Homo sapiens: one gene and its partner. The protein of the gene in region 1 interacts with the protein of each later gene in a pairwise test. Each region holds a gene or a part of one and is shown on either strand. Other genes may lie near its edges. The genes, in order: DAZL and PUM2.

Evidence for each region.
Region 2: the proteins of DAZL (region 1) and PUM2 interact in a two-hybrid assay, tested with the Homo sapiens proteins (2 studies listed by BioGRID and IntAct).

What each region holds. Positions count from the first base shown.
Region 1 is NC_000003.12:16,598,589-16,602,507, forward strand, and holds part of DAZL (deleted in azoospermia-like), read right to left. Parts: intron 11-3,919; coding exon 1-10. UniProt on the Homo sapiens protein: RNA-binding protein, which is essential for gametogenesis in both males and females. Plays a central role during spermatogenesis.
Region 2 is NC_000002.12:20,349,090-20,353,008, forward strand, and holds the start of PUM2 (pumilio homolog 2), read right to left. Parts: upstream 1,756-3,919; 5' UTR 1,508-1,755; intron 1-1,507. UniProt on the Homo sapiens protein: Sequence-specific RNA-binding protein that acts as a post-transcriptional repressor by binding the 3'-UTR of mRNA targets.

The DNA of each region.
Region 1 (3,919 bases):
TTGCAGTAGACTGTAATTTGGAAAGTAGACATCATAATTAGATACACAGGAAAAACCTATACATAATGTGAAATATAATTTTTGTATTTTAAGTATAAAATATTTTATATAAATTACTTTCATTCTAAGTTAGTTCAGGCTCAGGATTTAAACTTATCAGAGTAGATCAGCATGAAATTTTAATGAAAGGATATAGTACTTTTTTTTTTTTTTTGAGAGAGTCTCGCCCTTGTCACCCAGGCTGGAGTGCAATGGCGTGATCTCGGCTCACTGCAACCTCTGTCTCCCAGGTTCAAGCGATTCTCCTGCCTCAGCCTCCTGAGTAGCTGGGATTACATGCGCCCGACACCACGCCCGGCTAATTTTGTATTTTTAGTAGAGATGGGGTTTCTCCATGTTGGCCAGGCTGGTCTCGAACTCCCGACCTCAGGTGATCCACCCGCCTTGGCCTCCCAAAGTGCTGGGATTACAGGCGTGAGCTACCACGCGCAGCCAGGATACAGTACTTTCTTAAACCCAGTATTGCTCATTACCGAGTCTTGCACAATGCTGTGGAAGAATACTTAGTATTTGTGAAAATACTATGTGAATTACTTAAAAAAAAAACAAACCCAAAATTGGAAAGTTCAGATTTGTAAAAATCAAAATTAAAATCATCCTGTTCTATATTCATAAACAACTTTTCATTTTACTGAGTACACTAATAAAAAGGATGACAAATATTAAAAAACTCCAAAAAGCCACATCAAAAAGAAAATAAGCCTCAAAGTTTTAAACCAATTTGTCCTGCTTCGCCTTTTTCACCAAAATTAACATGAATTTTTACAATTTTAACGCTGTGTTAGTATGCCTGCTTTACTTTGGAAATGGATCATGGAAACATTATTTGCTCACATGTCACAGCTCCTTCTAAAAAAAGGATTATAATCCTCTTCCCTAATGCTAGGGTGTTCAAATCATTTTTTGAAATAACATTTTTCTTCCTAACACCAAATCAGTCCCACTGATAATTCTAATTATCACAGTAGGCAGATATAAATTATACCATCTTTATTTTCAGATAAAGAAACACACATATAACTCATTTTTTCTGGATTTTGATCAGAACTGTCTTTATTCTTTCCGCAGTAGACTCTAAGGCTAATGTAAAATTTTCTGAAGTAGAATTTGTAAGTAATATATATGTTGGAGAAGCAATATAGCAGAGTGAAACAAAAATTAATTTAGTCAGGAGATCTAGGTTTATGTCCCTTACAGGTAAGTGGTTACAAGCCACTTACTTGCCAGCCGTGTATCTCTGGGCAAACTGCTTTGAGAAGGAAATGAGATAACATCTGTGAATTCATTTTGTAAAGTATAAAGTGGTATATCAATATAAGTTAGTGTCCTGTTATTTGAATTTATTTTCAGATTTTTTTTCAAGTTTCTTTTTTGGCTTTACTATTTTAGCTGACTTATCTTGAAGATACTTTTAATTAAGAACGAATTGAAACATCAGGAAACTATGAAACATCATTAATTTAAAAATCATTGGTGAAGTGCCTGTTGACTACAAAAGGTAACTACAAAAAGCTGCAAAAGAGAAAGCTATTACACATATACCTGTCTGAAAGAAAACAAGACAAAAGAAAGCAACTGTTATCTTTTTGAAAAGCACAGTAATTTTATAGGAATTAATAAGAAAGTAGAGTTCCTGCTTTGTTAATTAGATGCTAGAAGTTACTGATTCTACACAGCTTTACTAGAGATGAAATCTAAATTGTCAAATCAACTAAAGCTGAGTTTATTGCTTTTCTCTATTCGTTTGTGCTTATACTTGCTATTTTGGGTTTGTAAATAATTCCTAATTCTTTCTTTTAATAGTGGTATTTCATGACAATGATGTGGAAGAAAAATTTAAAAACTATTTCTACAGTTTTTCCTTTCTAAAAATGTCTTACGTTGTTTTTCTAAATGACATTAAGCTGCGTATCTTGAACTATTAGGAACCTGATTAGATTTCCCCCCTACAGACAATTTACCAATCCCTTCTCAGTTCATTCAGAAATCCCAAACAGAATAAAACAAAACAAAATAAATTCTGAAATTCTTGTAGTTTTTTCTCCTTTTCAATTCCCCCTTGATTTGTGGATGAACTTTGGATATGTTTTTCTTTGATAAACAAGCTATATATACAGTATTGTCTCTGCATCACAGTGTTTGGATGTATTTTAATTTAGAAGTGTAACATCTGGCAGAAAACTGTGTCAGATTATAAGAGGTCATGATAATGCATTGATTCTCAACTGGGGAAGATTTTTGAGCCCTGGGGGCATTTAACAACGTTTAGAGATTGCTTGTCACAACTGAGGTGTATTCCTGGCATCTGATGGGCTGAAGGCCAGGAATACTACTGCACATCCTACAATGCAAAGAAAGCTTCCTACAACAAGGAACTATTTGGTCCAAAATTTGAATAGGGTGTGGTTAAGAAACCTTGTGACAGTGCCACAAGAATTGAGGAGGAAAATTATTGTTTGGGAAGAACCTGATTTCCATTGTTCAGTAAAGTAAGTCTTTTCAGGACCTCAGTTTCCTTGCTTGAAAATGAATGGTTGGAAAAGATCTCTGGTGTCTCTTCTAATTCTCATACCCTATACAAGAGTAAAACGGATACTTGGCGACAACAGTAGTTTGGTAAAGAGGAAAAGAGGCATTTGATATTATTAGGAAGTCTGACTTTGGCTTGGATCTTACAAACTGGCTGCCTGCTTAACTGGAATCGTAAATATAAAATTCATAGGATCACTTTAATAGCGTAATAACATCTTAAATTAAGGAGGCACCATCATGTCCTAGTTCTCAGCCAGCAGGTGGCGCTCAAAGCTAACAAAGTAAGCAATGTACTTCATTTTTACCACGGCTTGATTAGCAAGGGTTGTTAAATTCCTACTGTATTTATACATAATTATAATGTATATATAAAAATCCACAATCAATAGACAAACTTTGGTGAAACCGTGGCCAAAAATATAAATGAATGCTTAGGATAAGCAAAAGCTTAATTTTAAAGAAAGTACCATCGTAACTGTCAATAGCATCCTGAAAACAAACTGCATTAAAGAAGTAATTTTCTTAATCATACCTTCAAGTGAGTTGGTGAATTTTGAAATGAGAAATGTTGGAATAGTAAACGGGTGAGCTTCAAGACCATCATATACACAACTCTCATTGTTATTTATAGCAAACATATTCCTTGTTATATTTGGACAACCAAGTGACAAAGACAGCTAAAAGCTGGAAAAAATTATTATGTAACTCCTGGGATGTCAGCTTCTTTCACAGTATTATCTAATTCAATTACTATGTGAACATGAAAGCAAACTGAGATTTATATAAACTGACCAGGAAAAAGGCTATAATTTGTAGTTATCAAAGTTACGTTCACACCAATAGGAAGGAACGAATAAAGAGAATGCTAAAATTAAGAAAATATGACATGAAAATCAGAATCAAAACTTTAAGTAAATCCAAGAGTAGATTCTTGGGGAGTTGGGGGTGGGGAGGATGAAATTCAAGCAATAAACAATCCTGGCAAAACTAAGCAAGAAAAGGCAAGAAAGCAAAAGGATATATGAGACCTGAGAAATGGGTTATGACCACAGATTATAAAACAATGCTATGCATAAACTCTATAGAAATAAATTTGGAAATCAACGACATGACAAACTTGTAGAGAAATTTAAATTTTTACAAAACAATCTTGAGAAAAAACACCTAATGATACCTGGCTCAGTTTCCGTGGGAGTTTTTTCAACTTGTAAAGAAATAGATAACTTGGGTGTATGTTTGTGTCAGAGAGAGGTGCACATACACATCAGACACCAGAAATAAAGACAGAAAACACAGAAGAGGAGATTAAAAAATTCAAACACTTTTC
Region 2 (3,919 bases), on another chromosome or scaffold:
TCTTTTAAAAAGTTGAAATCTTGCTAAATGCTGAAACACCTAAGAGAACTTTGGACTCAAATTAAGGAAAGCATGTGTTAAACACAGCTTAAATTGCTGGAAAATGCGTAAGTTACTGGCAATTATAACTCAAAATAGCTAGACCTGTAAACAAAATTTAAAAACTGGACTTAAATCCTCAAGAACCAGGTTTCTGAAATAAAATTTTATTTTTAAGATTATCGTAAACCTTTTCTGCATACAAAAACTGCCCTCATGCACACCAAGAAAATTCTACACAATGCAATTTCACCAAAAATCGGAATTTTAAAGAAATTCTTGCAGCACGGAAAATGCCATCATTTTTATTCATAATGATTGAGCAAATGAAGTAAATCATTGTTTAAAAGGAGGCTAGGAAGAGAAACAAGTTGAAAATACTCATTTTTGTTTTTTTTTTTTTATTTACAGGATTCCTTAAGTCATCTTCCAATACTCCAGGTCACATGGTGAAGAGTCACCTGTTAAACACGAAATCTAACCATTAAACAAGCTTTTAAAATCCTTCGGTAACTCCCTTTATTAAAATTGTTTTCTTGACATACAGTACCTTTACAGGTATTACATTTCTCTTCACCGTTTACAAGCATTTTTCTCATGTTTTCCTTCACCAAAACATCTGCCCCGTTTTCTCAACAAGTAAAAATCTCAAAGTACTAAGTCCTAACATGATGTCTTATTGCACCTAATATGCTGGCAATACATTCCTCTCTTCAAAAGTTTACGTATGTTAGAATAAAAAGCTAAGTTAAGTAGGTTTTCTCTGGCTGTGTTTTCAGAAACAACACTAACTTTTACACGTGTTTGGGCATGAAACTTTAAACATTTTCCCCAAAACCTGACCCAATTCAGATACAAAACTACTGCTCAAATAGTAGAAGCCGCTAATCTTGTCTTTGGTTTTAATTTACATATTTTTCTGAATATCGAAATCCGTTCCTATAACCTAAACAAGGCGAATCCAAGTCACTGCTTCATACCCACATCTGTCCACGGCAAGCTTTTCCCGGACACACTCGGGCCTTTGAAAATGCCCACACTTGTTTTCATAAACCCACTCCTTCCTCTTCACCCACTTGCAATCCGCATGCTTCTCTGGGGCCACCCGGCCTCTCCCCTCTTTCCGAACCCTAGGGCCGACAGCTCGGTCTCTAACCTCCAGCGCGCCGAATCGGAGGGAGAACCGGGTCGGCGCCCCACGCCCCCGAGGCGGCGGCCCCGCAGAGGGAAGGAAGCGGGAAAGCGGCCGGCGCGGCGCCCCCTCCCCCGCACGCGCACACCCCCTTCCGGCACCCCTCCCCCTGCATTGTGCGAGCGGGCCCCAGGCCGCACCGGCCCGGGCACTCAGCAGGCCCTATCCGCCCTCCCGCTGGCGATCGGCTCCCGCCGAGGCCGCCGCACAAAGCCTGGGGAGCCATCCTCGACGGCGCCAAAGGACCGGAGAAAGAGCGAACGCGGACTGACTTACAGGGCTGCTGCGGCCGCGCTGCCTCAGCCGGGGACACCGACCGTTGGGCACACGGCGGCGTCGCTCTTGGCGGTCCTCCCCCTCCTCCGCCTTCGGTGGCGGCAATGTCTTCTTTCTCCACCTACCACCCTCCCCCCCCACCCCACCTCCTCCTTCTCCTCCCCCTCCTCCTCCGAACCACCGAAGTACCGAGGGTGAGACACAGAGACTCACAACAACATGGCTGCCACCGCCGCCTGCCCTCCCCTCCCCCCCGCCCACCGGGCGCGCGCAGTGCACCCCGGGAGAAAGGGGAGGGGGAGCGCTCACCAAGGCGCGGCTCCTTTTAATGCCTTGCGTCCCTGCTCCCGCGCTGCCGCCGCGCGGGCCGGGGGCGCCCTGCGCGTGCGCACGTTCTCCGCGCTCTCACGTGTTTGGCCGCCTCTCCGGCGTGCCCTCCCCCGCCCTCACCTTGCGGGCTCGCGCTTCCCTCCTGGGCTCCGCCGCGGCGGGCTCGGAGAGCGCAGGCGTACTGTTGCCAAACGCTGTGTTCGACTGTCTTCCCGCGTGGGGCCTCGCCTTCTGAATCTTCTTACCCTCGGCTTCCTACCCGGTTGCTCACTGTTTTCCCCCAACTGGGTGTGCGGGTGTCTGCGCCCGCGCCGCCCACCGTGGGGTACTCCTGGCATTTCGCTTCCAGAGTGCTGGCGCCCACAAGAGCCGGACGTTAATTCAGGCCTTTAACTTTCACTCTGTACCTCCCCACAACCAGACGAGGGAGATGCATCTGGGGGTGGAAGATTGTACCCTGCGAGAGGGCTGTCACTCTTCTCGTGGTTGCACCCCAGGCAGGTGGAGCCAGCTCTCAGCAAATTGTCGGCCCCCAGTGCTTGGTCCCGGTGCACACAAAGGAAACTCAGGTCGTTCTCCAGCTGGGCCAGTGATTCTCACTCGTTGGCTGTTTCTTTTTCTCGCGTACTAAGCGCTCTCTCCTTCCCCGTTTACAGGCTAGTTGGAAACTCCAAATCTGCCTTGCTGTCCTGGACCCCCATGCAAAGCAGTGGTGATTCCAGGATTCTAACCTAACCGGCTCCAGGTCACACAGCTGTAACAGGCACCGTGTCCGATTTGTTCTTGATGGTTTGTTTGCACAGCTCCTGGCTCTCCTGACATGCTGCACTTCGTAAATATTCAGGGCCTCCCGTATAGTTTGCTTAATATATGTCTTCCCTAGGCGACTGTGAGCTCCACGAGGGCAAGGACCTTGTGTTTTGTTTCACACTGTGCCCGCAAGTGCCTGTTGAATACACATGGGCTCTTCGGTTTTTAACTATTACTGAAAAATGTCTGACATTGAAATCCATCCCAAGCCCCTACCTTAGGCTCATATTTCAGGCTTCTAGATATTTTCACTTGAATTTTCTTGTCACCAAGCATGTTAAAAACTGAAGTCACACCCATCCCCTACCCCCCACTCTTGTACTGTCTCTGTAATTGGCAGTGTCACCACCTATTCATTCCCCAAATTACACCTCTGAGAACCATCCTTGTCTCTTCCTCTTACCCCGACTCCAAATATAAATAACTTACCAAGCCTCGCAGATTTTTACTTCCCAAGTAATTCTGGAGACAGTCTTCCTCTGCCTCCTCACTAATGCTAGCCTTGCTTCCCAGGTCTGGATTTCTGTAGCTGGCTCTTAATCAGCTTTCCTGTCTCCAGTCTCACTCCCTCCAATCAGTTCTGCTCACTGCTATCTAAAATGCAAATCCAATTCCTGGCGCTCAGGCCTCTGCTTCAACCATCTCATTGCTCCCCATCACCCACGACAGCATTTCCCTAGTGTGCTGTGTTCAGTGTTAATAGATGTTCCTTTAAGAAATGTCTCACGATCAAGTAAGAATGGGAGATGCTGGGGTGTACACATTTTGCCTTCCTTCTCCTTTCCCCTCCGTTGAGCTGATAATAGCAGAAGAGTCTTTATATACAGTTGCTTAGTGTGGGTGAAACTAGATAAATCCATCACAGGCCCTCCCTTAGAATATGGAATTGGGACTAAGAGACCCCAACCTCGAAAGTCTCTTGGACCTGGGATCCCTTGGGCAGACTGGTTCCATCCTGTAAGACAGGGAACCTGTAGAGAAAGAGTGGAGTTGAGAGAGAAAAGGAGAGTGCTGACAATGTCTCTCTTTCACATGTTTCTGTGCCTGGCTGGCTGCCTCTACCCTTGGAGTCTGAGCCGCATTCCTGGATCCTTATGGTAAATTCTGCTTCTTTGCTTAAGCTAGATAAAGTGAATTTCTGTTACAACCAAGAGTCCTACTAAAAGCCACGTGTAAGCTATAGTTATTTGTTTGGTACTAACAACATGCAAGCACCAAAGCACTTTCCATACATTGTCTCATTTAATGTTCCAGATATCCCCATGAACAAGG